2 separate regions of the Homo sapiens genome follow, and region 2 is linked to region 1. Evidence: fine-mapped expression QTL. A gene starts in region 1. The other region holds a variant in brackets. All regions are shown on one strand. Distances are from middle to middle.

Region 1 (15,316 bases):
CCCTTCACATTTCTCTATACCAGAGAACTTGAAATTAATATCCCAGGATTATATCTGAGTATATATTTTCATAGTATGCACTGACAGAATTCCTTTATTTATTTATTTATTTTGAGACACAGTCTCTCTCTGTCACCCAAGCTGTAGTGCAGTGGCATGAACTTGGCTCACTTCAAACTCTGGGCTCAAGAGATCCTCCTGCCTCAGCCTCCCAAGTAGCTGGGACTACAGGTGTGCACCACCATGCCTGGCTATTTTTTTAATTAATTTTTTTTTTTTTAGAGCCAGGGTCTTATCACTTTGCCCAGGCTGGTCTTGAACTCCTGAACTTAAATGATCCTGCCTTGACCTCCCAAAGTGCTGGGATTACAGGAATGAGCCACCACACCTGGCCCAGAATTCCTTTAATTTTTGGATTTACTTCTTACTATGTTCAAGGGAACATCACGTTAACAAAGAGAGAAGACACACAGTCCTTGCCCCCAAGAAGCTCCAAATCTAGTAAGGGATACAGAGCTATGAAAATAAGCATGATATGCCATGAGTATGCTATTAGGCAAACTAAAATATTTATCTTTTCTATTTAAATGAGCAGAAAATGGACAAAAGACTTGAATAGACATTTCTGCAAAAACGAAATACAAATAGCCAACAAGTACACGAAACGAAAAGATGTTCATCATCACTAATCATAGGGGAAATGCAAATCAAAACCACGAAGATACCACTTCATACTCATTAGGATGGCTGTTTATGAAAAATGAAAAATTAAGCCAGGTACTATCACTCACTGAGTAGCTGAGTAATCCCAGCTACTCAGGAGGCTGAAGCAGGAAGATGGCTTGAGGCCAGTTCAAGGCTGCAGTGAGCTATGATCAGGCCATTGCACTCCAGCCTAAGTGACAAAGTGAGACACTGTCTCAAAACACACACACACACACACACACACACACACACACACACACACAACTTTCTAATAGTTCTCAGCATCAGAAAAGTTGGCAATGAAAAGGACTCTAATCCTTAACTTTTCTATTATAACACACCCTCTGTGAGAGTGAGTACAGGCTCCTGCTATAAGAAGAAAAGCATTTTCTTGGCTCTTTTCTACTGACCATTACTAAGGATCAAAAATGCATTATTAGAATATGAATTATACCATAGCTATAGTGCATTTTTCCAAGAAGTAAACCATCTACTGATGTTCCTCCAAAAAGTAAAATTATCTATTAATGTCCCTAAAAGGGTAAGTTTATCTCTTAAAATGTTGTGAGGTTTTTTGTTTGTTTGTTTTTTTCTTTTCAGACACAGTCACTCTGTCACCCAGGCTGGAATGAAGTGGCACCATCTCAGCTCACTACAACCTCCACCGCCCAGGTTCAAGTGATCCTCCTGCCTCAGCCTCCCAAGTAGCTGAGATTACAAGTGCCTGCCATCAGGCCCAGCTAATTCTTGTATTTTTAGTAGACACAGGGTTTTACCATGTTGGCCAGGCTAGTCTCGAACTCCTGACCTTCAGGTCTCGACCTCCCTAAATGCTGGGATTACAGCTGTGAGCGACTGCACCCAACCAAATTTTGTGTGTTTTTTTTTTTTAATTTAAAAATAACACAAAAGGGGTATGGAAGAATTTTGGGGGATAATGACACTATTCTATATCTTGATTGTGATAGTAGTTACACAATTATGTTTGTCAAAACTCAGAACCATACTCTTAAAAAGGTGAACTTTATGTAAATTCCTCCTTGAAGGGTGACAGAATATGCCACCCCAAAATAAGCCACTGTGACATACGGATTACTCTGAGCTAAAGGCAACTTGAAAAACAGCAGATGCTTCCCTTTTCCTTCTTGAAAACAGGAGATAAAAACTCCTATGTAAAAGATGCCCTCCCTGTAGAAGGAGAAAAGAAACATTTCTCAATAGCCAAGAGAATTCTGTACAAACAGATCTTGTTAAAATAATTCTTGTCTTCCTTTAGCCTCCCTACATAATTTAGTTACTTTTCCACAACTGCCTCTCTTTGTTTAACCCAATACAAAAGCACATAGGTTCTACCATTTCTTTTTTTAATTTTTTCTTTTCCTTTTTTTTTTTTGAGATGGGAGTCTTGCTGTGTTGTCCAGGCTGGAGTGCAGTGATATAATCGCAGCTTACTGCAACCTCCGCCTTCCAGGTTCAAGCGATTCTCCTGCCTCAGCCTCCTGAGTAGCTGGGACTACAGGTGCATGCCACCATGCCCGGTTAATTTTTGTATTTTTAATAGAGACAGGATTTCACCTTGTTGGCCAGGCTGGTCTCGAACTCCTGACCTCAAGTGATCTGCCCACCTCAGCCTCCCAAAGCACTGGGATAACAGGCATCAGCTACCATGCCCAACCAGGTTTTGCCATTTCTTTGGGTCTTCATTTCCTTATGAGGACTCCTGTGTCCCATAAAACTTATTTTAAATTTACATAAGTTTTAATATTTAAAGTATTTAATCTATTTCATATTTAATTCTTAGGCTTAACCAGGGCCCTATGAGGAGAAAGGCAGAATTTCTGCCCCTACTAAAATCTTAATTAAAAATAAAAAACTAATATAAATATGTTAATATTCTAATATGTAAACGTAAAAATTTAACATTATGCCAATAAAAGTACCAATAAGGGCCGGGCACAGTGACTCATGCCTGTAATCCCAGCACTTTGGGAGGCTGAAGTGGGGAGATCACTTGAAGTCAGGAGTTCGAGACCAGCCTGGCCATCATGGTGAAACCCCATCTATACTAAAAATACAAAAATTAGCTGGGCATGGTGGTATGCGCCTGTAGTCCCAGCTACTCAGCAGACCCAGGCAAGAGAATGGCTTGAACCTGGGTGGATGGAAGCTGCCGTGAGCTGAGATCATGCTACTGCACTCCAGCCTGGGTGATAGAATGAGACTCCGTCTCAAAAAAAAAAATAGTCCAGATTCTTTCCTAAGGAAATTATTTTTAAAAACCCCAACAATTTATGCTTAAGGAAATTATCTCAGAGTTATTTGCAATAACAAAAAATTAAAAACAAACTAAATGTTTTGTTTTAAAATCATATAATGCTTCAACAAATTATCCCTTTATGACAGAAAACTATCAATAATTTAGGGAAGAATTTTAATGACATTGCAAATGTTTAAAAATAATGTTAAGCGAAAACTGTAAACTTGTACAAATTGATTCAAACTTTGTAAAAGAATTATAGGTGCACACACAAAAGCCTACATAGAAAGCTGGAAGAAAATATACCAAAGTCTTAATACAAGTAGAATTAGGTCAGATTTCTATCTCATTCATGCTTCTTTTTATTGCTCATGTTTCCTATAGTGTTCCTGAATAGACAATATATTTATATGGTTCAAAATTCAAAAACCAGTATAGACTAGCCCTGATTACTCATGCTCATAGTCCTCACTACTCAGGGAGCTGAGGCAGGAAGATCACTTCAGCCTAGGAGTTAGAGGCTTCAGTGAGCTATGACTGCACTATTGCATTCCAGACTGGACAATAGTGTAAGATCCAGTCTCCAAAACAAACAATATAATAGGGTATGTAGTAAAATATCTCTCTGTCCCCTCAAATATAAGCTTTCTTTCCCACAGGCAACCAAGGTGTTTGATTGTTTTGTAATTCTTTCAGAGATATTTTCTAAGTGTATATATGTTGGAAGACAGAGGTAACACTATTTTCTAAAAACAGAAGCACTGTGTCAAAGAGTATATGTGTTTGTAATCTTGATAATTGAAATTTTTTGAGTTTTGTATTATAATTATATCTTTCTTCCTCTACAGTTATAAAAGAATCCCTTTTTGGCTTCTTGTAATACTTTTTGGTTTTTTTTTAACATTTACATCTTTGATTCATATGGAATTTTTTTGGAGTACAGTGTGAAATATGGATTCAACTAAACTATTTTCTACATACATCCTTCATCATCCCAATATCATTTTTTGAAAAATCCCATCATTTCCTCGCTGGTTTGAGATGCCACCTCTGTAATACACTAAATTCCCATATGTATGTGATTCTATTTTGGGGGTTTTTATGCTGTTTATTGATCTGTCACTTTATGTGCCAGTATCATATTTAAAATATTTTATATCAGAAAATATTTTAATATCCTATAGGTCATTACCTCCTTATTGTTCTTATTTTTCAGACTTTTCCTAATTGCTCTTATTTATTTTACGATATAAACTTTGGAATCAGTTGTCTAGTTCAACAGAAAGTCTTGCTGGTACTTTTTTTTTTTTTTTTTTTTTTGAGATAGAGTCTCACTCTGTCGCCCAGGCTGGAGTGCAGTGGAGTCATTTTGGCTCATAGCAACCTCTGCCTGTTTCTCATTACAACCAAAAACTCCGAATGAATATTTTTTAAAAACTACTCGAGAACCTTGAAAAGTAAACAATAGCAGGTAGATTGGGGACTGAAGTTGAAATCTTAATAACAACCCATTTATTGACGAGTTTCAGTTTGTTTTCGGTTTTTTGGTTCTTTTTTGTCTTTCAGCTTTGAACCATCCAGTGGGCACAGACAGTAAACCTATTTTTATCCAGAAGACCAAGGAAAATGACCCCTGCATGCCAGAAGGTATAGGACAAAGCCCAGGGCTTTATGTTGCTTTCTCTCTCACCTCCCAGCCCTGCCCCAAGGCTGGCCCTAGCCTCAGAGCAGACACCAACCATGGCAACTGGGGAACATAAAACTCAAGAGAAAGTGTCTACCAGAGGAACTGGGAAAAGGGATCGGTATTGCCTGAAAAGTGTGGACAGAATCCCCCTTTTTTCTCTCTTTTCTTAACTCTGTGCTAAAGGCTGTCCCCCTTGTAAGGAACTGCTGTATAGTGAAAAGGCTAACACTCAAAGAAACCTGTCTTTCTGATCATATGAACTGGCAAGTGGGTATGATGAGGAAAGGGGGCAGGAGAATCCTGGAGAAGAGAGAGAGGGAAAGGAGAATGACCTAATTCTGTGTACGATCCAACTTAAGTCCCAGACACAGCCCTGAGCACATATGAAGCAGACCTAGTGGCCTCATCCCTGCCCTCTTTTCCCTGTGTCTAGCACAGAGAATATGTTAGAGAAAGGTTTCGATAACCTGAAATACCGACTTTTTTGGATTCGTATAAAACTATTCGTTTCCAGTTTGGCAGGGACCAGTTTCCCCATCACACATTCTTTTCTTGAGAGAAACTGTTACCCATTTTCCTAGAACTGAGCTACGAGTCTCTTGAAGCAAAATGAAGTCTCCTGAAACAAAATGCAGTTAAGTTCAGACCCAAGATCTTTTTTGCTTGTGCAAAAAGACTTAAAGCCCCCAAAAGGAAAGCCTTTTGAAAAATGCTATAAAGCCACCTAGTACAAACCTCATTTTATCCCTAGCTGGTTGGGGGTAGGTGGGAACAGACTGTGTTTGCTTATTTACAAGCTCTCAGCTCAGGCACGGCTGCCCCACAAGGCTCTGATCCTGCCCACAAGCACATGTTCTGGTCACGATCTCCACTCAAAACTCTGACCCCCTCAGAGGGCACCTGGGCCGCCCTGGCGCGAGGGTTCAGGCACTGTGGCCCTAATGATGGTCACCTTCTCCAGGGCAGCTCCTTTTCTTCCAGGTCGCTCTCCGTCACTGAACCCTCTATCACAGTTTCATCACTGTCCCAGTCTGGGGCCTGGACGCCTTCCTCCATCTTTGCCTCACATTCAAAGTCTTTTTTACCCTCCTCTAACTCCCTCTTGCCCGCAAACAAAAAAACGCTTTGAGGGCCAGGGGAAATTGTGAATTAAAAATAAAAATAATATAATCGCAGCAGGAGCCGGGACTTGTCGCAGGGCTGCTGAGGAGGACGCAGGCGGCCGCGAGCGCGGCGGGGTAGCAGTCTGCGAGGCGGCCCGCGGGTCCCGCCGCTCGTCGCAGACAGGGGGCAGCCGCTCGCCACACGACGGAGCCCTGCGCAGCGCTCGGCCCCGCCCCCAGCTCCCGTGGCCGGAAGTGGGAGGCCGCGCGCGCGCGCGCAGGCCTACTCTGGGCGTGGCCTGCCGCTGCGTGTTTTTTTCACGGTTTCTCATTCTCGGTCGCTAGGCTTTGAGGGTGCTGGGGTTGCTGCTGCAGAGACCAGAAAGGCAGGCGTGGCGCACCCAGAACTCAGACCGAGCCTGCTTAACACCCTTGGCCGGGAGGGTGACCTGCCATGCACCTGATGCTTGTGAGCCCCAGATACGGGAAGAGCTGTCAGCTCCTGCCCGCCCCAGCAGCCCTGGCATTCTGGAGCCAGAATGCGACCTTAGACCTAAAGAGAGTTTTTGCAGCCCACCAAGTGCTTCCTTTCCCTTTAATCCCTTGACAGCCTCTCCTCAAGTGTCCTCTGAGGTAGACAAAACAGATACGTTTATCAGAAGTTTTAGCTCATCAACTAATCTCAGTGATGTATTTTGCATTTTTTTTTTCTCTCAACAACGCTTTGGTTACCTGAAATACAGATTATGCAGGAAAGGCAGGATAAATGCTTTATTTTTTCCTCTTTTATCAATTTTTATAATAATAGTAATGCCTAGCAACCTCCAAAAGTAGTCAATTGCGTTTTAATGAAGTACTAGAATTTTATATATTTGATGTGTTTCAGTCTAGTTGAACATTTTTAATTCAAACTAATTCAAAACAAAGCCAAGTGAGCTTCCACTTGCCAAGTGAGAAGAAGATTCAAGAAAAGACCAAGTTGTTTTCCCATAGCAAGTGTTTAGTATTCACCTTGGAGTCTCCAGCATCTAGCACATATAAAGTCTAAGTTTTGTCATAAATGGATGGAGCTAGAGATTTCTGACTTCCCAATTCATTGCCCTTTTCACTATATGGAGTAGCTTTGCCATTATTATCATTATTATTATTTTGTGTTTTTACTATGTATATTCAAGCCACTGCTATTTAAAATGCTTGATTGGTGATTATCTTCTAAACTTAACTTGAGGCTGGGGGTGGTGGCTCTACCTGTAACCTCAATGCATTGGAGGCCGAGGCAGGAGGATTGCTTGAGACCAGAAGTTCAAGACCAGCCTGGGCAACATGGTGAGACCCCTATCTCTGCAAAAAATTTGTTTTTAATTAGCAGGGCATGGTAGCATGGGCCTGTAGTCCCAGCTACTCAGGTTGAGGCGGGAGGATCGCTTGAGCCCAGGAGTTTGAGGTTATAATGAGCTATGATTGAGCAAACGCACTCCAGCCTGAGCAACAGAGTCATACCATGTCTCAAAAAATAAAAAAATAAACTTACTTGAATAAGTAACTTACTTAAATAAAATTCCTCGCCTCAACTCTGTAAATTAGGCAGAGCAATAATAAATATGCAAAGAACTAGACCTCTTTTTTATTTTTTTTAACAGTAGTCCATTTATACCCTCCGTGTCTAAATCAGACCTAAATTCCTATCACCTTTCCTGCTCACCCACTGTTTAATTAATTCATTAGCGCATTCTTCTGTGTTGCCCAAGCTAATCTCCAACTCCTGGGCTCAAGCTGTCCTCCCACCTCACCCTCCCAAATAGCCGGAACTACAATCTCATGCCACTATGCCCACTTCACCCATTCTTTTAATTATCCAACTCTGCTTTCACAGGAATTGGGGGATGCATACCCAGTAAATGGTGGTGAGTGGCTCCATTTGCCCCAGAGGGAAAGATGACTCCACTAGTAACAGTACTTGCTCCAAACAGCTGGTAACAAGCTAAGTGCAATAAGTCCTCACTTAATGTCTGTCGGTAGGGTCTTGGAAACTGCAACCTAAAACAAAATGACTTACAAGGAAACCAATTTTACCATTGTCTAATTGATATATATGAGAGTTAAGTTCTTACAACATATTTCTGGTCACAAAAACATTACCAAACTTGTAAATAAACACCAAAACACCTTTACTATTAAACATTGAAATAAACGTGAGCTATATATATATTTATTAAATATATATATTTAAGAAATATCTTAAATATATATCAGATATTTATTAAATATATATTTAATAATAAATATTTAATATATTTAATAAATATCTAAGATATATATTTAAGATATTTCTTAATATATTTAATATATATAATAAATATCTAAGATATATATTTAAGATATTTCTTAATATATTTAATATATATTTAATAAATATATATAAGAAATGTCATATATATTTAAGAAAGATTAATAAAAATATATATATTTAAGAAAGACTAATAAAAACAAATAAGATAATTATTTACCTAGTCATTCCAGTTCAGGGTTGAGAGTGGCTGGAGCCTATCCTGGCAGCTCAGGGCTCAAGGCAGGAGCCAACCCAGCACAGGAGGCCATTTCATTGAAGAGCGTGCTCACTCACACACACACACTCATTCTGAGACCAGTTAGATAAGTCAATGAGCCTAACATACACATCTTTGGGATGTGAGAGGAAACCAGAATACCTGGAGGAAACATGCTGACATAGGGAGAACATGCAAACTCCACATACACAGTGGCCCTGGCTGGGAAGTATAATAATTTTCTTCCCTCATCAGTGTTGAAACACCATTGAAATAAATGTTATTCGAGGATCTGCTATAGATAAATTCACATTCTTCTGGGCCTGAAATTCACATTCTTTTTAAAAATGCTTTCTCTTTTGGCGGGAAAAAGTCAGTTATTTTTGCATCATCTGTTCTCCTTTTATTTAAGAGAGTTGCTAAGATTCAAAGAATGAAAAAGAAATGGCAGAGATGAGCCTCATAAATGCCAGTGTGATTTTAAATAAACCTTTTTTTGTTTGTTTTTATGAAATCCAAAGTTTCAGTGCAGGACAGAGGTGGAAAAATGAACAGAAGATCTGTTTTAGGAAATCTAGGCTGCAGTACAATTCATACTGGTTTAAGCAGGGTGAGTTGAGTCATGTAATTGAACCAAGGAGAGGTTTCCCAGGTATTTCAGGAATGGCAGGAATCAGGTACTGCAACTGTGTTTCAAAGGAAATAGAGCTCAGCTTTCTTTTGAATTAGTTTGAATTTTCAAATAGATTAAAACATCGCCGAGTATGTAAAAATCTGTAAACATTATTATTAAAAAATAATAATTGGCTACTTTTGGAGGTTGCTAGACACCATTTATTATTCTAAAATTAATAACGATAAAAAGACTTTATCCTGCCTCTCCTATACACTTTATATTCAGAATAACCATAGTTAATGAGGGGGAAAAAAAATTTTTTTTTGAGACGGAGTTTCGCTCTTGTCGTCCAGGCTGGAGTGCTATGGCGCGATCTTGGCTCGCTGCAACCTCCCACCTCCCGGGTTCAAGTGATTCTCCTGCCTCAGCCTCCCAAGGAGCTGGGATTACAGATATGTGCCACCTCACCCGGCTAATTTTGTATTTTTAGTAGAGACGGGGTTTCTCCATGTTGGTCAGGCTGGCCTCGAACTCCTGACCTCAGGTGATTCACCCACCTCGGCCTCCCATAGTGCTGGGATTACAAGCTTCAGCCACCACGCCTGGCCATAATTTTTAAGAAATGTAATTAAATTTTACTTGGTCTACTCCATTTGGGCTATAATCTTACAAGAAAAATGTCCTCTTGGGGAATTATTGTTGTAAAGGTGAATTTAAAATTTTTTTTTGATGTTTAAAAAGAAAAAGAAGGCTCATTATTTTGTGATTACACAATATATTTTGCTTTTATAATTAAGATTCTTCGCTGCCTATAGCTTCATATTATTTATTTCCTATCCAGGTTACTTTGGATCCTAGAACTGTAAGAGATGAGACTTTCATGGAAGATTTGATTTATCATAACACAATATGAATCTCTAAGAGACTAAATCCAGCAGCCACTTTCACCTTAGTAATATTTCTCCCCAAAATAAAACTATATGAAGTATTTCACCAAGTATTCCATGATAAGTATTTTAAAATACACTTTCCCGACAGGGCACAATGGTTCATGTTTGTAATCCCAGCACTTCGGGAGGCAGAGATGGGAGGATCACTTGAGCCGAGGAGCCTGGGCAACATAGAGAGACCCCCATCTCTACAAAAATAAAAATAAATTAGCCAGAAGTGGTGGCGCACATTTGACCCAGGTACTCGGGAGGTTGAAGCAGGAGGATCCCTTGAGCTCAGGAGTTGCAGTGAGCTATGATTGCACCACTGCACTCCAGCCTGGGTGACAAAGTGAGATCCTGTGTCAAAAAAAAAAAAAAAAAAAAAAAATACACTTTCCAAAAGAATCATTTTCTCAAAGACTTAGACTTTTTTTTAAACAAAAATAAGTTACTAATCCATTAACCCAAGCAATTCACATGTTTGGCACAAATTAAAGCTGTCATGTAAACTTTTTTAATGGATGGGAATAAGTATGTAACTGAAAAATCAGGATATGTGAAATCTTTTCTCAAAAACTGCAAAATAATGGAGCACACAAAGGCAAGTTTGCACATGATTAAGTGTTGGTTTAGTACCTAAATTTGTTTGTTTATTTATTTATTTATTTATTTATTTATGAGACGGAGTTCCACTTTTGTTGCCAAGGCTGGAGCACAGTGATGCGATTTCGGCTCACTGCAACCTCCGCCTCCCGGGTTGAAGTAATTCTTCTGCATCAGCCTCCTTCATAGCTGGGATTACAGGCATGTGCCACCACACCTGGCTAATTTTTGTATTTTTTTAGTAGAGACGGGGCTTCGCCATGTTGGCCAGGCTGATCTCGAACTCCTGACCTCAGGTGATCTGCCCGTCTCAGCCTCCCAAAGTGCTGGGACTACAGGGGTAAGCTACCACACCCAGCCCTAAATTTGTTTTTTAGCGATCATTATAGCTGATTCATATGTGTGGGGATATGCCACCCACAACTCCTATAGGCTGTCCCTTCTTAGTGCAGAATTTAATAAGTTCAATTTCACTTTAAAATGGCATAAAATAGACATAAAACACTTCAGAAAGTTGAAAGTACTGTAACCACCCAATGGGTTCTCCTTGCCTGCTGCCTAGACAGAGCCAATTTATCAAGACAGGGAAATTGCAATGAAGAAAGAGTAATTCACGCAGAGCCGGCTATGCAGGAGACCGAAGTTTGTTATTACTGAAATCAGTCTTGCCGAGCATTTGGGGATCAGAGTGTTTAAAGATAATTTGGTGGGTAGGGGCTTGGGAAGTGGGGAGTGCTGAGTGGTCAGGTTGGAGATGGAATCATAGGGGGTGGAAGTTAGGTTTTCTTGCTGTCTTCTGTTCCTGGGTGGATGGCAGAACTGGTTGAGCCAGATTATCAGTCTGGGTGGTGTCAGCTGATCCATCAAGCTCAGGGACTGCAAAATATCTTGGGCACTGATTTTAGGTTTTACAGTAGTGATGTTATCCCCAGAAGCAATTTGGGGAGATTCAGACTCTTGGAGCCAGAGGCTGCATGACCCCCAAATTGTAATTTCTAATCTTATAGCTAACTTGTTAGTCCTGAAAAGACAGACTGATCCCAGGCAAGAAGGGGGTCTTTTCGGGAAAGGGGTATTTTCAATTTTGTTTCAGTCAAACCATGAACTGAACTCCTTCCCAAAGTTAGTTTGGCCTACACCCAGGAATGAACAAGGACAGCTTAAAGGTTAGAAGCAAGACGGAGTTGATTAGGTCAGATTTCTTTCACTGTCTTAATTTCCTAAGTTATAATTTTGCAAAGGTGGTTTCAGTACTGTGAAATTTCAGATGATAGCCTAATATAATTAGTATTTCCAAGATGAAAAACCTCTGAAGAATCACTAATGGTATCTGTTATTCTGGCAATTGATTAAAAGATATATTATAATGAAGCCCATAAAATCAGCAGAGGATGATTGAAAAAACACTTGGCATTTCACAAAGGAGAATCAGAGGACTAGACACACCTAGAGGTAAATTATAACGACCCTCCCCACCCATTACTCCAGGATGCCTACCAGATGTTGCTATTCTATGTGGTCTCTACTATTACAGTTATTCATTGTTTAGTCTATTAGACTGTAAATAATGTTTCTTCAGAAGCAGAAAGGGGCAATAGCTATACACTGATCTTCTGTCTCAGAAGAAATACCTTACAACATTGTATAATTTATCATGATGTGAAAAAAACAATATTGGAACACAGGCATTAAACTATTATTATATATCATCAGGGTTTTGTAAGGATTCTTAGATTACTTTCCCCTTATAAACACAATGTAATGTTGGCATCAAGAATTGGCAATCAAAGTAATAAGGCCATGACAGACTGTCAAAAAGAATTACAGACTCAAATGCAACAGCCTAGAGAACATGACATTGATTTTGTCAACTAGTTTAACAAGTTTGACAGCTTCCTCCTTGCCTGCTTGTCCAGACAAGTGATACTCACTGATGGCCCGAATGCTAAAAAGTCTATATTTCAATGTCTTTCCATTTCTATTCCTCCCCACATCTGGTCTTTTTCTGTGATAGTAACTGATTAAAACATTGGATTTTAAACCATGCTTAACCTAACTCATAATTAAAGAAATATACATTAAAACAGCCAATGACACGTTTGTTGGTTTATTTTATCTATTAGTCTGGCAAAGATTTAAAAAAAGACTGATAATGCTCAGCACTGGCAATGATCGGGGAAAATAGGTGTTCTCATATACTCTTGGAGGGAGATGAGTTCAATCTTTTTTGGAGACCAGTTTGGCAACATCTATGAAAATGTTTCACATGGGCTGGGCACGGTGGCTCATATCTTTAATCCCAGCACTTTGGGAGGCCTAGTCAGGTGGATCATTTGCGGTCAGGAGTTTAAGACCAGCCTGGCCAGCTTGGTGAAAACCTGTCTCTATTAAAAATACAAAAATTAGCAGGGTGTGGTGGCACATGCCTGTAGTCCCAGCTACTTGGGAGGCTAAGGCAGGAGAATCGCTTGAACCTGGGAGGCAGAGGTTGCAGTGAGCCAAGATTGCACCACTGTACTCCAGCCTGGGCAACAGAAAGAGACTCTCTTAAAAAAAAAAAAAAGTTTTACATGTATATACCCCTAGAGATAGCCTTTCCACTTTTAGGAATTTATTCCTATATTACTGATATGCTTGCACCAACTGTAATTTTGAAAAGTTGGAAACAAACTAAGTGTTCATCATTAGGGGATTATGCAGTGAAATACTCTGCTGTCATTATAAAGAATGAAATACGGCTGTATATTAGGACATGTGTAGCTGCCCATGTTACCTTGTTTGCAGAATAAAGCAAAGAGCACAACAACGACAGCTCTGGAATTTCATACAGGAAAGGCTTAAGGATGAAATCTGCTTGGAAGTGAGGGCTCTGAAACTTCACCAAAGCTTGCATTTGAATAGCAAACACGGTTTTCACTTAGCTGCTTACATGGAATATTTGTGGCTTTATCTTAGATTCTATGTTTATTTGTGGTTGTTTAGGAAGGTTAAAGAGATACGAAGATATAAATAAAGCCCTCCACACATACCAAGACACCACCTGATCCTGATACTGCAGAACACCACAAATTTTTATTTCTTCTTTTTATTGAGGTATAATTGACATACAATGAAATGCACAAATCTTGTATTTTCACTTCAATGTGTTTTCTGAGCCATTCTATATTTCTACATTTATTTTGTTTAACAGCATACTCAACTCTAAAGGAAGAGAATGGGAGTTGTAGGTGGGAAAAAAAGGTAATACACAAGCAATAGCTTGAATCTTAAAAGTATAATTTACATAAATAAGACATAATAAAAAGAGAAATTTTAATAATTTCTGGACTGATAATATTGCCAAATAAATACATGATAATGGGATCTTCTTTGTGTAGAACCGAAACAGCCATATAAACAGGTTTAGACTAATGTATTAGTAGGTCTGCCACTGTAGAAAAAAAATACCAGCTATACCCACAAAAAATCCCAGTGACAAGAGGTTAATCAGAATCTTCACATAGTAAAAAAATGCAGTTCAATGATTTTTGACTCTCTCTCTCTCTTCGTGCATGTGTATGTACACACACACACACACAGACACACACACACTCAGGTAACCACCTAAGTACTTAAAACAAGATCAAGAATATTTCCATCACTCCTGCCCTTTCCTCAAAATCCACCTGCAAATGATAGTTTTTCATACAAATGGAATCACACTGTACGTATTTTTTTAAACTGGCTTCTTTTACTTAGTTTTATGTTTTCAAGATTCGCCAACATTGTTTGCACCAGGTCATTCCTTTTTATTGCTGAGTATTGTTATATTATGCAAATAGACCAAATTTGTTCAGTGCATTCTCTTGTTAATGGACATATATGTTATTTTCAGTTTGGACACTGTAATGAATAAGATTGCTATGAACATTCCTGTTGAAATCTTTTTGTGGGTGTATGTTTTCATTTCTCTTTGGGTACATAAATACCTGATGAGCAAAATTCCTGGTCATATAGTAGGTATATGTTTAACTTTATTAAAAAGCTGCCGTGTAGTTCTCCAAAGAGAGGACGACTCCCAACAGCAATGTATGAAAGTTCCCTTTGCGTCATATCTTCACGAGCATTTGTATTGTCAATCTTTTATGTGCCAGCCATTTCAATGGATATGAAATAGTATCTCACTGTGGTATTAATTTGCATTTCCCTCATGCCTAATAATACTAGCAAATTTTTGTGTGCTTGTTGGCTGTCTATATACCTTTCGTGAAGTGTCTATTCAAATTTATTGCACACTTTTCCATTGGGCTGTTTGTATTTTTATTATCGATTTCTAACATTCCTTTACATATTCTGGATATGAGAGGCCTTTGTCAAATATCTGTATCATGAATTTTTTTTATTAGTCTCTGGCTTGTCTATTTTTTTTTTTTAAGAGATGAGGTCTCCCTTTGTCACCCAGGCTGCTGGAGTGCAGTGGCATGAACACGACTCACTGCAGCCTCCACTTCCTGGGCTCAAGTGATCCTTCCACCTCAGCCCCCCATACCCTTCCAAGTGGCTGAGACTACAGGCACACACCACCATGCCTGGCTAATTTTTGTATTTTTTGTAGAGACAGGGTTTTGTCATGTTGACCAGGCTGATTTGGAATTCCTGGGCTTCAGCAATCTGCCCATCTAGGACTCCCAAAGTACTGGAATTACGTGTGCCACCACACCTGGCCTCTTAATATAAGTGTCTTTTGATGAGTAAAAGGTTTTAATTAGGATACTGTCCAATTTATCAGTTTTTTTCTTTTATGATTAGTGCTGGTATTAGTTTCCTAAGGCTGTCATTAACAAATTGCCACAAACTGGATGGCTTAAAACAACAGATACTTATTTTT
Region 2 (15,316 bases), 640 kb before region 1:
GTGTCTCATTTCTATGAGTTCCTGGTTTGGAAAGCAAATCTCATTTTGCTTGTTTTTCCAGTTTAAACAGTAAACCGTAGGGTCATTGAAACTGGGGCCGATGCAAATTAAGGCACTTTCCAGCACTCACGCCCCCTCAGCCTCCCACCTGTTTAATTAAAGCCAAATTTGGTTGGGGAGTAAACTGGCATTTACAAATCAGGAGAAAATCTGGTTCCAGTAATTAAAGGGATTTTCTAAATCTTGTCCTCCATGTTAGAACACTCATTTTAATAGTTAATTAAAGACTCTTTAACCATCCTTTGAGAGAAATTTTAAAAAGAAAAGATTAGGGACCTGCCACACAGATACTACAGACAACAGAAACGGAAATTCTTTTTTAAACCCTTTAGGGGAAACTAAGGTCTTCTTTTCCTTACAATGCTTTGGGCATGAAGACTTTTTTTTTTCTCTTAATAAAAGGAGATACTCATTTGCTTTTGTATTGCTGAGGGTAGCCCTGCAAATTTCACAGCTATTCCATAAATATAAGCCAGCTTGCAAGTCACCCACATACCACTGCCACTTTAGTTAGGGTAGGTTGGGAAAATAGATGTTTTATTCCTTTGGTTTCCCAAGCTATGGGTAGTGCCAAAGAGCCGAACACCTTAGGCAGAGGTCCCCCAGGCACAAGGATGAGCAACATTCCTCCTGGAGATCCATGTGCCTCTCGTATTCCAAATGGTTTTAAACTAGGTGAGGTCGACCAACCAACATTTATCCAGCACTGTGCTAGGTGCTAGGAGGGCACACAGGTGAATACAGTATAGTCCTTGCTGCTCTGGACGTGAACATAATGAAGGAGACAATACATGTTCAGGCAATGCTAATTCAAGGCACACAGATATAGAAGATACACTGGAAGTAGAAACAAAGGACAGGGGGACAGGGAGAGAGACTCTGAACAAGAAGCCCTCCCAGAGAGGTGAGTCAAACTGTTCAATAGGTAGAAGAAGCAGATAGCTGCAGAATAATATTCCCAGACAGAGAACAAAGGCACAGTGGCAAGAGTCTATAGATGCCTGAAGCTGGAGCGAAGGGCTCCTGGGGAAAGGGGTTGAGCAGAGGGGAAGAAAGCATGAGTTCAGCAAAGGCCGTGTTGTGGAGGGACCTTCCCACCAGCTGTGAAATTTGCTTCATAGTACAGAGAAAAGGTTTGGGAGCTATGGAACTAAATGGTTGGGGACCAAAAAGAGACTTAGGCAAAAGACCAATTCAGATGTCACTGCTCAATTCTGTGGCTGTGTTATAGGAAAGGGGTCCCAATCTGGACCCCAAGAGAGGGTTCTTGGATCTTGTGCAAGAATGAATTCGGGGCGAGTCTGTACAGTAAACTGAAAGCAAGTTTTTTAAGAGAGTAAAGGAATAGGCTGGGCACGGTGGCTCACACCTGTAATCCCAGCACTCTGGGAGGCTGAGGCAGGAGGATCATTTGAGGTCAGGAGTTCCAGACCAGCCTGGCCAACATGGTGGAACCCCATATCTACCAAAAATGTAAAAAATTAGCCGGGTGTGGTGGTGCGTGCTTGTAATCCCAGCTACTCTGGTGGCTGAGGCAGGAGAATCACTTGAACCCAGGAGGCAGAGGTTGCAGTGAGCTGAGGTCACGCCACTGCACTCCAGCCTGGGTGACAGAGCAAGACTCTGTCGTGCTCTCATATTCGAAATGAGTTAAAAAAAAAAAAAAGAAGAAGAAAAAGAAAGTAAAGGAATGAAAGAATGGCTACTCCATAGACAGAGCAACCCTGAGGGCAGCTTGTTGCCCATTTTTATGGTTATTTCATGACGATATGCTAAACAAGGGGTGGATTATTCATGCTGCCCCTTTTTAGACCATATAGGGAACTTCCTGATGTTGCCATGGCATTTGTAAACTGTCAGGGTGCTGGTGGGAGTGTAGCAGTGAGGACGACCAGAGGTCACTCTCATCGCCATCTTGCTTTTGGTGGGTTTTGGCTGGCTTCTTTACTGCAAACTGTTTTATCAGCAAGGTCTTTATAACCTGTATTTTGTGCCGACCTCCTGTCTCATCCTGTGACTTAGAATGCCTTAACCATCTGGGAATGCAGCCCAGGAGGTCTCAGCTTCATTTTACCCATTCAAGATGGAGTTGCTCTGGTTCACATGCCTCTGACAGAAGCAGCACCCAGAAGTGAACTCTAAGGCAGACGTCTTCAAAGAGAGCTACTCACATCCCCGCGGTCCGCAGACTTACGGAGGACCATACGCTAAGTGGATCATTCTAAGGGAATCAGTGTCTAGATCCTCAACTTCTGTATGGTGTCTTTTCTAAAACTGTCTAATAAACATAATCACACTTGAAAAAAAAAAAAAGTCATACCCTTAACCTATCCCATATCTTTCTGTAGCAGGGTAATGAGTCATCAAAGTCCCTTAACCCCACAGACTTCCTGTCTTTCCCCATCATCTTGGCTCTTTCTGTTAGGATGAGCCTTGATCTTTTTTGGAGGTAATGAATTCAAAATAATCAACCGCCATACAGATTTGTGGCATTGATTATTTAATGTTCCTGGAACGTTTCCTACAATTATCAACTTTTTAAAAATAAAACCCACAGGTAAAATTATTTATATTTGAATTCATTCTGATTCAGTGTTTCAGAAAGATACTTAAAATCTATTTTATCAAATCTATCATATTTATTTCCGCTATAGTCAGCTCTAATCTTATTTCAAATTATAATATGGTTAATGTTTTCTACCTTCTATTAACAGAGAGTGAACGTCTTTAAATCCATGATGAAAAATTTTAGTTGTTAACTTAAATATTCACGAGGGAACACGTAGTTTTTGAAAAGTCTTTTGGGAGTACCCACACAAACATGTTTGAAGAAACACAATTTCCTTGGAATGTCAGTAGGACTTTGGTAGGGAAACAACATGGCAGAAGGGTGATGGGGCAGGTTTCGGTGGTAACTTAAATTTGAGAAATGCTACATTTCAGTTGAACAGAACTTGGATCCCTTAAGATGCTCATGGACATTAAGATTCTTTCAAGAGGGGGATTTATAGTATTCAGTTTCTCCTGAGTTTTGACCACAGGAGAAGGGCAGCACCAAGGGGTAACTTGAGAGTGTCTTATACCTCCCCTCAGTAATCTCCATTTGCTACGACCACTCCCCATGAAAATAAACTAAGTACAGAATCTTACTATAAACTTGAGCTTCAAGCAGTGTGTGCTGGAGCCTGCTCATACAGACTCACACCAACCTAGGCACAATTGACAATCAAATGTCTCTTCAGAAACACGTTCTGGAGCAACATTTTTTTTTTTTTTTTGAGACGGAGTCTTGCTCTGCCTCCCAGGCTGGAGTGCATGGGCACTATCTCGCCTCACTGCAACCTGCACCTCCCGGGCTCAAGCGATTCTCATGCCTCAGCCTCCCAAGTAGCTGGGATTACAGGTCCACCACCACCACTCCCAGCCAGTTTTTGTATTTTTAGTAGAGACAGGGTTTCCCCATGTTGGCCAGCCGGTCTCAAACTCCTGACCTCAGGTGATCCACCTGCCTCAGCCTCCAAAGTGCTGGGATTACAGGTGTGAGCCACTTCACCCAGCCTGAAGCAACATTTCTCTTTTGTTTATTTGTTTGAGACGCAGTCACTTTGTTGCCCAGGCTGGAGTGCCATGGCACCATCTCGGCTCACTGCAACCTCCGCCTCCCAGATTCAAGCGATTCTTGTGCCTCAGCCTCCCGGGTAGCTCAGATTACAGCTGTGTGCCACCATGCCCAGCTAATTTTTTGTGTTTTTAGTAGAGACGGGTTTCACTGTGTTGGCCAGCCTGGTCTTGAACTCCTGACCTTGTGATCTGCCCACCTCAGCCTCCCAAAGTGCTGGGATTACAGGTATGAGCCACCGTGCCCGGCCGTTTCTCAATATCATTTTGTATGAATACACACAGCTTCTGTTCATAGATCATTTCTGATTTGGGCTTTACAAATGGCATATTCTTCACACCATAACTGTGTAGAAAGAAGCCAGTAGGCTAAAGGCATGAGGCAGAAGTTGAGACAAACCCTGTGATAAAGAACTTCCTGTATCATCAATTCATGCTACAGATCAAATCCTATCACCCATGTATATACCACGTGGTATACCTCCCCAGCGCAACCCAGAATGCTTACAAGTATTGTCTTTCCCCTTCTTGAACAAGATTCTAAAAGTATGCTTGTTGTCCATATAATACCCCTAAAACACCTCTCATTTAATTAATTCTCTGGAAAAACAAAAGATGTCTTTTCAATTCCAAAATTAATAAAATTTCTCATTTGATTTCAATTTAACAAGATGACCTATTGATTGACTGAATCTTTGACTTTTCAACTGAGCATTTTGCCTTTGTGTTTGCCAATGACATATGTCATTGTGCGAAATGGAAAGGCCATCTGGCAAGAACTGCTCTGCTAGATGAAGAATGCTGGTATTCTTACAGCACTGATGCTCAGTATTGAACTATGTTGAATGCTATAAAAATGAAAGCTTCTCCAACAAAAAATGTCCTTCAGAGGCAAGCTTTGTATCTCCCCGTCACATCTGTGCTTTCTCTGCGTGATGACGAGTGATTCTAACATAGCCTTCCTTTGCCCTCAGAGTCCCCACAGAGCAATGTAAAGGAATTGGGTAATTCTCTTATGTAGGGTAAGCAACATATAATTTCAGAAATGAAATGGGAGTCTCTTTTTAAAAGGCAATGCAATTGCCTATTAACTTTCTTTAATTACAACACATCATTACATTATTTTGTAATTACATATTTTCTAAGCCATCTGTTTTGTCTGCTTGACAGAGAGCCCTCCAAGGGCAAGGATTGCTTGTGTCTTATCTTCATATCCCCAATGGCACAGAGACGGACTTGAAGTAGGCAGTCAGTAAGTATTTGTTAAATGAGTGAATGAAAAATGGAATGAATGCATTCAGGATTTGAATCCCTATCTTCTCCTGGACACAGTGATCTGGTCAATCCAAGAACCATCTTAACAGTATCTTTTGGTCAAACTAGTTGCTATGACTTGTCTGCACAACAGTGTAACAGGAAACAACTGACATATCTCTGTCTTAGAAATCTGCTCTGCCCTATATTCTCTGAATAGTTTGACTAAAACGTATTGCCCATTCAATTTTGGAGCTGTTCCAGGTTTAGATTTTCTTTTATACTTTGATATTTAAGTTTCCTACTTTCCAAAATACTAAATACTTCATTTTTCTGATGATGATGACTGCTTTTAAATTTACATTTCTCCCCTGTTCATCTTCTCTGCCACTTTTAAAACACACTAATCCTTTCTGTCTATATTTTCTGATATTGTTCCAGTTAAATTTCTTCTTTGGAAAATAAAAATATCTTTTTTGTTTCCTTTATTTCTTTCCTGTAATTTGTTCCCAAGGCCTCGAGTCTAAAAGCTGTCTTTGACCCTTGAACTTATGCTGAGTTCCCATAGCCACTTCCTCAGCTGGCCTGCCTGGCGCTATCTCTAAAACATTCCTAGAATTGCTCCTTGCTGAGACCGAAACCCATGTGCTCACCTTAATCTCAACTTATCTTGACTTCCAATTTTTCCATATATGGTCCTCATACCTCCCTATTGTCTGAAGGTCCACAGAGGAAATCTGTTCCACATCAAGAAGTATATATATATATACATATATATTACTTTCTTGGTTGTTCTCTTCTCCTCTGGCATTTTGGAACTTTCCTGGGCTAACTTCTATCCTCAAATCTGATATTGGTCTTCAAATTATTTCATTTGAGCCAGTGATCACATGTAGAAGCTTGTGTTTTATTTTGTTTTGTTTTTCCACTGGCTCTGCTACTCACAGGATAAAAAGTTGGAGACAAGGTATTGAACTTGACTCAGTGAGTAGAAAGCAGGGATTTAAAATACTTGGCATATGTCCTGCTTTGGAGTGCAGCTCTAAGAATGAATGAGTCTAAAACCACAGCAAAGAATTTATTATTATAGATCTCTATTAGCAGTACTATCACTTTACTGATGATGGTAATGGAGCTCATAATAATATAAAGAAACGCATTAGCAAACATGGAATCTCAGAAAGACTCTATTACATAGTCTTTAAGAATTACCTGGGCTGGGCTCAGTGGCTCACACCTATATTCTCAGCACTTTGGGAGGCTAAGATGGGAGGATTGCTTGAGGCCAGGAGTTCAAGACCAGCCCGGGGAACATAGAAAGACCCTATTTGTACAATAATAATAATAAATTAATAATTAATTTTAAAATAAGAATTACCTGGCCAGGCGTGGTGGCTCTTGCCTGTAATCAATCCCAGCACTTTGGGAGGCCGAGGCGGGCGGATCACGAGGTCAGGAGATCGAGACCATCCTGGCTAACACGGTGAAACCCCGTCTCTACTAAAAATACAAAAAATCAGCCAGGCCTGGTGGCAGGCGCCTGTAGTCCCAGCTACTTGGGAGGCTGAGGCAGGAGAATGGTGTGAACCAGGGAGGTGGGGCTTGCAGTGAGCCAAGACTGTGCCACTGCACTCCAGCCTGGGCAACAGAGCAAGACTCTGTCAAAAAAAAAAAAAAAAAAAAAAAAAAAAAAAAAAAGTACCTGCCCACAGTGCTACCTCCCTTCTCTAAATCACACTGGATTTTTTCATGACTATCAAACTGCCCAGCGATTAATTGTTCTCTTACCATTTCCTGTGGATTATCTTTGCCCCTGATGAGACCCATGGAAACAAGACCTATGGAGTCCAGCTCTAAGGATGAATAAGTGTAAAACCATAGCAGAGAATTTATTATTATGGATCTCTATTAGCAGTACTATAATTTTACTGATGATGGCAATGGAACTCATAATAATATAAAGAAATGCATTAGCAAACATGGAAGCTCAGAAAGGCTCTATCTTTCTCTTGCACTCTGCAGTACCAGCTTGAGGACAAGTCACATAATAAGCTCACAAGAATACTTTTTGATTGGTGATGAAATTTCATCCTGATGATTCTCTTTATCATAGTGAATAAAGAATGGTTTATGGCTTCTAATAAGATTGCAAAGTTGAAAAATCACTAAGTTCAATTACATCTCTAGGAAAGAATTGCTCTGAGCCTTCCCAAAGCCCTGAACACAGTCCCCAGCAATCCCTGTGCACTTACGGCTGAATTTCCTGCATATTTCCCTGCTCTGGCTAGTCTCCTGCCATGGGAGCCGATGCAGAACAGCACCACCTCTCTTTTTAACTCGCCCACCTTTCCTGACCACATTCCTCTCGGCCTCCTCACGTTTGTAGGTCAAACCCTGGAAAGGCCACATTTATCAGAGACAATTGACTCAAAAGGCATAAAGACCCCCCACAGCCACTCACTGCTGTACTAGCCCCTTAGTCCTCATTCCTCGTCTCTACTGCCAAAGAAAAGGAGAAATTCACATTTGTTAAGCCTCTGCTCTGGGCCAGGGACTCCTCTGTTAGGTTGTTTTACTGG[ATG/A]TGTGTGTGTGTGTGTGTGTGTGTGTGTGTGTGTGTGTCTTCCCAACTATCTCTCTCCTCCCTTTATTACTCTTTTTGTACTTTCTTCTCTCTCCTTCTCTCTGCTAGAAGTAACTTTGGAACTGGTTTAAGATTGATGTGCTGGAAATGTATAACAAGCCAGATTTTCATGGTGTAATTAGTGCCGTCGTGGCTAATTTCTTTTTTTTTTTCTTCAAGATGGGGTTTCACTCTGGAGTGGCACGTGCCATCACACCTGGCTAATGTTTGTACTTTTTGTAGATATGGGGTTGTGCCATATCACCTAGGCTGGTCTCGAACTCCTGACCTCAAGTGATCTGCCCACTTTGGCCTCCCAAAGTGTTGAGATCACAGGCATGAGCCACTGCACCCGACCATGGCCAATTTCAAGTTACAAACATGGTCACTGAATGCAGACTGAGACGTGCACAATCCACTCCTGTCAGCAGGGTGGAGCGCCTCTGGTTTGGAGTAAGGGTAGGCAGCTCTGCAACTCAAAACTCTCTTTCCCCAGAGTTCTGTGAAACCAATTCATAAAGAATACATACAAATCTGGCTTCTTTCGGTGGGTGTAGGGGGCACAGCAGAGTTCAGTGGGGCATCTTACTTTAATTTTTTTTTTCAGGAATGGTCTTGTTCTGTTGCCCAGGCTGGAGTGCAGTGGTGCAATCACAGCTCACTGCAGCCTGGAACTCCTAGCCTCAAGCAATCCTCATGCCTCAGCCTCCTGAGTAGCTACAACTTACAGGCATGCACCACTACGCCTGGTTAATTTTTCATGGTTTGTTTTTTTTTTTTAATCAAATATTGGGTCTCGCTATGTTTTTGCCCACGCTTGTCTCAAACTCCTGGCCGCGAGCTATCCTCCCACCTTGGCCTTCCAAAGCGCTAGGATTACAGGCGTGAGCCACCGTGTCCAGCCATTACTTTTACATTTTGACTTGTGCCTCTTGTTATATGTGGAGGATCAATTATTTATCCACCACTGCCCAACGTTCATTACAGGAAAAAGGCTGCTCAGCTTGTGAAAAGCGTTTGCTCCAGTTTCTTTCATTTGAAGCATGCAAAGTAGTTTTAACAAATGGCACTTAATAAAAAATAAATGGTACCTTAAGACCGTTCATGCAGAGGACTTCCTGACAATGACTGGAAGTGCCAACTAGCCCATGAGCTAATTATCCTGTAAATTCCCTTTTCTTCCCCAGTGTGGAGGTGAGATCTAATTTGAAAGATTAAAATCTTTGCATGATTACAGTATATCATAATTGTTAAGCTCTATAGTTACATGCTCAATAGCTACTAAGTAAGTGCAAAGAATTACAAGGTGATTTGTGCCTGTAAGATAAATTCCAAGAATTTTGCTTCTAAAAAGGCAGGGAAGTGGAGGTGGCAGAATAAAAAATGTGCTAAGTGAAGTGATTTATTGTGAACTTTAGGAAAGGGAGACTTTGGGGTCTCAGGATTCATAGACAGGCCAAATCATAGAATGCCTTCACATGCATTTCTTAGGTTGTGCTAAACTTTACATAAAAGCACCACTCAAGTGGATGAAGTTGTCTAAGGAGTATTTAGATTGTACTTTGGGAAGGGTTCCAAATGTCTGCTATTCTCATAGTAGAGGAAACCACCAAAGTATATTTCCAACAACCTCAAGCACGAAAAGCCAAGTCCAATCTTCTTCAACTCAGTGCCAGAGAAATAATATGAATACACACACACACACACACGTATGTGAAATAAAAACAATAAAAATGTTAAAGAAGAAAGAAAAATAATAAAGCTTTTAGTAGTTATAGTTCCAACTCCACCACTACTTCGTTTTGTGCCAACAGTTCTTTGGTAGATCTTACTAATTCTTTAGTAGACTTCACACTGGAAAATTCATTCATTAAACAAATATTTATTCAGCACCTAGGGCATACCAGGCTCCTGTTCTTGGTACTGGGGACATGATTTAAAAAAAGATAGATTAAGAGCTCTGCTCTCTTTGAGCTCAGAGTCCAGCAGGAAGAAAGGTTTAAAAATTAAGTATTGGGCCAGGTGTGGTGGCATGTGCCTGTGGTCCCAGCTACTCCAGAGGCTGAAGTGGAAGGACCCCTTGAGTCCAGGAGGTCGAGGGTACAATGAGCCATGATTGAGCCACTGCACTCCAGCCTGGGCAACAGAGCAAGAGCCCGTCTAAATAAGTAAATAAAATAAGTACTAATTACAAGTCCTAGGAAGAAGAAGAACAGGGTGCTGTGAAAAGTGTAAAGGTCTATCCTGGTTTGGGAGTCAAGGAAAGCATGAATGAGAAAGTGACAATGCATAATTTGACCTAAGGATGAGTAGGCACTAGCCAGGAGAAAGGGAGAAGGGCAAAGCCAGGCCTTTCTCCAATCAAGCAATGCAAAAGGAGTTTCTAAAACTATTGTCTGGTAATGCCTTTCTCCTCCCATCCTTGAAGATCCTCAGACTAGTTTGCTCATTATAGCTAAGATCTCTTTAATTTTTCTAGCTGTAACTTCTGATGTTACTGATAGCTGTAGGCATAATTTTAAGAGGACAGGAAATATCAGATTTGATGAAATTGGGCCCTTAGGAAGACAGGCAATAATGAGTTTCTAGAAATTAATTCTCAGAATGGTCCAGGAGTGGCTTGAGAATCCAGTCTGTGCAGGTATCCAGGAGTCTGGCTTACTGACACAACATGGGGTAAATGGCGGCTCACTGGTGGTTGGTAAACAGAACCATCTCAGGCAACCAAAAAGGATACAAAGTGACAAACACAACTAGATAATTGTCCATTTTATACCTCATATTTAATTGTAATGACTCAGCTTAAACCATGTCAATGTCGAGAATTTTTGGAAAATTCACCCATTTCCCTTAAAGGTAGGATTTTTCATCTGACACCAGAATAGGAGCTGCACCATTCACTTATCTTAGCCTACTTAGTATGTTATTATTGGATAGGTTTTAAACCCATATGATTATGTCAATAAATGCAGAAAAAGTGTTTAATAAAATTCAACATCGCTTCATGATAAAAACCCTAAATATATGTAGAAGGAACATATCTCAACACAATAAACACATATGCGACAAACCCATAGCTAACATCGTACTGAGTGAAGAAAAGTTGAAAGCTTTTCCTCAAAGATCAGGAGCAAGACATGGATGTCCACTTTCACCACTTCTATTTAACACAGTACTAGACGTCTCGCCAGAGAAATTAGGCAAGAGAAAAAAATAAGGGGCATCCAAATTGAAAAGGAGGAAGTCGAATTATTCCTGTTTGCAGGCAACAAGATTTTATATATAGAAAACCCTGAAGACTCCACCAAAAGCCTATTAGAACTAATAAATGAATTATGATTTTAGAAGTAGGTTTTGTTCTATAAAGAAAATTAGAAAAGTAAGAAAAAAAAAGTACATCATTAGCCAAATAAAACCATAGCCTATTGTTGGATATAATTCTTTTCAGCCTTTTTTACACATTATTTTTGGGTTTTACTTTTTCTTCTTTTTAATATGACTGATTTAACTCCCCATACAACTGAATGATATTTTATTTTTACTTAACATTCCATCATAAACATTTTGCCTGTTGTGACATACCTTTTGTAAACATTATGTTAAATAATTGTACAATATTTCATGAAGTGAATATGTCATTGTTTGCCTCACCAGTCTTCTGTGGTGGGACATTTAGGGCCCCCATTAACATTCCTTTTAACTAGAAGTTTGTTTTGGTTTGTTTTGGTTTTGCTTTTTGAGACAGAGTCTCACTCTGTCGCCCAGGCTGGAGTACAGTGGTACCATCTTGGCTCACTGCAACCTCCACCTCTGGGTTCAAGCAACTCTCCTGCCTCAGCCTCCCAAGTAACTGGAACTATAGGCACACACCACCACACCCAGCTAGTTTTTTTATTTTTAGTAGAGATGGAGTTTCACCATCTTGACCAGGCTGGTCTCAAACTCCTGTACTCAGGTGATTCACCCACCTTGGCCTCCCAAAGTGCTAGGATTATGGGCATGAGCCACCATGCCCAGCCTTAACTAGAAGTTTTTTTAATCAGTGGGATTACTTTCATAGTAAGGACTCTTAGATGTTGCATAATTGGGTCGAAGGTATAAAACTTTTAAAGATTCCTAAAATGTATATAGTTCAAATTGTGTTTTCAAATAGTATATCAATTTATGCTCCCATTGACAATGTATGAAAGCACCCATCCTTGTCAGCTCGCTCTCTCTCTCACTTTCTCACCATTTACTAAGTGCAACTTTTACTAATTTCTTGGGCAAAAAAAAAAAAAAGAAAGAAAGGATGGTATTTTGTCTTAGTTTGTGCCTTACAAGGCTAACATTACCCTGATACCAAGACCAGACAAGTACACAACAAAAAAAGAAAACTGTAGGCCAATATCTCTGATGGACATAGATGCAAAAATCCTCCACAAAATACTAGCAAATCAAATCCAACAGCACGTTAAAAAGATCATTCACCACGATAAAGTGGGATTCATCCCGGGGATACAAGGATGGTTCAACATAAGTCAATAAACCTGATACATCACATTCAGAATGAGGGATAAAACCCATATGATTATCTCAACACATGCAGAAAAAGTGTTTAATAAGATTCAACATCCTTCATGATAAAAACCCTAATATGTGTAGAAGGAACATATCTCAACACAATAAACACATGTGACAAACCCATAGCTAACATCGTACTGAGTGAGGAAAAGTTGAAAGCTTTTCCTCAAAGATCAGGAGCAAGACACAGTACTAGAAGTCTTAGCCAGAGACATTAGGCAAGAGAAAAAAATAACGGACATCCAAATTGAGAAGGAGGAAGTTGAATTATTCCTGTTTGCAGGAAACATGATTTTATATATAGAAAACCCTGAAGACTCCACCAAAAGCCTGTTAGAACTAATAAATGAATTCAGTAAGGTTGCAGGATAACACTCGACATACAATTCCTAGTGCTATTTTATTTTTATGTAACATCCCATCAAAAATATTTTCCCCATTGTGACATAGCTTTTGTAAATATTATGTTTATGTTAAAATTCTGTGGCATCTGTTGAGAAGCAAGGAGAACAGGAAAAAATTAGTAGCATTTTAATATGCCAACAACAAACTATCTGTAAAAGAAATCAAGAAAGCAATCCCATTTATAAAAACTACAAATACAATAAAATGCATAGGAATAAATTTAACCAAGAAAGTTGTCTAATTTTTCTACAGTGAAAACTATAAAACACTGATTTTAAAAAATTGAACAGGACATTAATAAATGGAAAGCTATCCTGAGTTCATTGATTAGAAGAATTAATAATGTTAAAATATCCAAACTACCCAAAACTGTCTACCAATTTAATGCAATCTCTATCAAAACACCAAGGACATTTTTCACTGAAATAGAAAAAACAATCCTAAAATTTGCATGGAACCACAAAATATCCCAAACAGCCAAAGCGTTCTTGAGCAAAACAACATAGCTGAAGGCACCACCCTAACTGACTTTAAAATATACGACAAAACAGTACTAGGCAAAACAGCATGGTACTGGCAGAAAAACAGACACAGACCAATGCAACAAAATAGAGGACCCAGAAATAAATTCATGCATTTAAAGCTATCTGAGCTTTGACAAAGGCACCAAGAAAACACACTGAGGAAAGGAAGTGTCTTCAATAAATGGTGCTGGGAAAACTGGATCTCCACATGCAGAAGAATGAAACTAGACCCCAATTTCTTACCACTTACAAAAACCAAATCAAAACAGACTAAAGACTTAAATATAAGACCCCAAACTATGAAACTACTAAAAGAAAACATAGGGGAAATACTTCATGACATTGATCTGGGTAATAATTTTTTTAATCAGACCTCAAAAGCACAGGTGACAAAAGTGAAATAGACAAGCAGGATTACATCAAACTGAAAAGCTTCTGCACAGCAAAGGAAACAATCCGCAGAGTGGTGAGGCAATCAACAGAATGGGAGAAAATATTCACAAACTATGCACCTAAAAAGGGATTACTATCCAGAATATGTAAGAAAGTCAAAAAACTCAATAGCAAAAAAAAAAAAAAAAAATCTAACTTTAAAATGGACAAAAGACTGACATTTCTCAAAAGAAGTTATACAAATGGCCAACAGGTTATGAAAAAGTACTCAATATCACTAAGCATTGGGGAAATGCAAACCAAAACCACAATGAGATATCATCTCACCCCAGTTAGAATGGCTACTATCAAAAAGACAAAAAATAAACAAATGTTACGAGGATGTGGATAAAGGGGAACTTGTACACTGTGGTGGGAATGTAAATTTGTATAGCCATTACAGACAACAGTATGGAGTTCCTCAATAAGTTAACAATAAAACTACCATATGAACCAACAATCCCACCACTGGGTGTATATCCAAAGGAAAGGAAATCAGTGTGTGGAAGAGGTATCTGCATTCCCATGTTTATTGCAGCACTAATCACAATAGCCAAGATATGGAATCACCCTAAGTGTCCATCAATGGATGAATGTATTAAAAAATTGTGGTATATATGCACAACAGAATACTATTCAGCCATAAAAAGAATGAAATCCTTTATTTGAGACAACATGCATAAATGTAGAAGACATTAAGTAAAATAAGCCAAGCACAGAAGAGCAAATACCACATGATTTCATTTATGTGGAATCTTAAAAAGTTGATCTCATAGAAGTAGGGAGTAGAGGCTGGGTGCGGTGGCTCACGCATGTAATCCCAGCAATTTGGGAGGCCGAGGCAGGTGGATCACCTGAGGTCAAGAGTTCCAGACCAGTCTGGCGAACATGGTGAAACCCCGTCTCAACTAAAAATACAAAAATTAGCCAGGCATGGTGGCAGGCGCCTGTAATCCCAGCTACTGGGGAGGCTGAGGCAGGAAAATCATTTGAACCCAGGAGGTGGAATTGCAGTGAGACGAGATTGCACCATTGCACTCCAGCCTAGGTGACAGAGATTCTGTCTCAAAAAAAAAAAGTAGAGAGTAGAACAGTGGTTACCAGAGGAAAAAAAGAAGGGAGATGAGGAGAGGTTGGTGAAGAGGTACAAAGTTACAGTTAGATATGAGAAATAAGTTCTGGTGTGATATTGCACAGTAGGGTGACTATAGTAAATAACAATGTATTGCATATTTTCAAAATACCTAGAAGAGAGGATTTTGAATGTTCCCACCAGAAAGAAATAATAAACATTTGAGATAACGGATATGCTAATTACCCTGACTGATTGTCATAACAGTGTATATATGCATCAAAATACCACAATGTACCCCATAAATATGTACAATTATAATGTGTCAATTAAAAACAAAATAGGGCTGGGCACGATGGCTCACACTTGCAATGCCAACAATTTGGGAGGCTGAAGCAGGCGGATCACCTGAGGTCAGAAATTTGAGACCAGTGTGGCCAACATGGTGAGACTCCGTCTCTACTAAAAATACAAAAAAAATGGCCAGGCGTGGTGGCGGGCACTTGTAATCCCAGCTACTCAGGAGGCTGAGGCAGAAGAGTCACTTGAACCAGGGAGGTGGATATTGCAGTGAGCCAAGACAGCACCATTGCATTCCAGCCTAGGCAACAAGAGCAAAACTCCAGCTCAAAAAAAAAAAGAAGAAAGAAAAAAAAAAGAAAACGTTTCAAAAATAAAAAACTAAAAACGATAGTATTTTAATTTGCATTTCTGTGAAATTGACAATTTTCATGTGTTTAATTAGATTGATTTTCTCTTTAATATTCA

Direction of the effects. Alleles are on the strand shown, and positions count from the first base shown. SD is a standard deviation of normalised expression in the study named.
For the expression in memory regulatory T cells of the gene that starts at base 5,897 in region 1, ATG is the low allele of the variant in region 2 and A is the other (moderate effect, 0.69 SD a copy in Schmiedel 2018).

What was found. PIP is the estimated chance that this variant, and not a neighbour inherited with it, causes the effect.
Region 2: its variant is the best candidate, but not a certain one, in a credible set for the expression of ANKRD31 in memory regulatory T cells (Schmiedel 2018, PIP 0.86).

Annotation. Positions count from the first base shown.
Region 1 is chr5:75,230,982-75,246,297 of GRCh38, forward strand. ANKRD31 (ankyrin repeat domain 31) reads right to left here and starts at 5,897. Exons shown (of 26, transcript NM_001372053.1): 1 at 5,602-5,897. The coding sequence starts at 5,705. LOC124901006 (a long non-coding RNA gene) reads left to right here and starts at 6,057. Exons shown (of 2, transcript XR_007058823.1): 1 at 6,057-6,385; 2 at 9,756-9,907. RefSeq lists an enhancer at 5,618-5,787 and a silencer at 5,838-6,137.
Region 2 is chr5:74,589,792-74,605,107 of GRCh38, forward strand. No RefSeq gene overlaps it. Among named protein-coding and RNA genes, the nearest start is that of ENC1, 43 kb to the right of the region's middle. RefSeq lists a cis regulatory region at 2,234-2,594 and a silencer at 4,473-4,767. The variant ATG/A (reference allele first, on the strand shown) is at 7,512.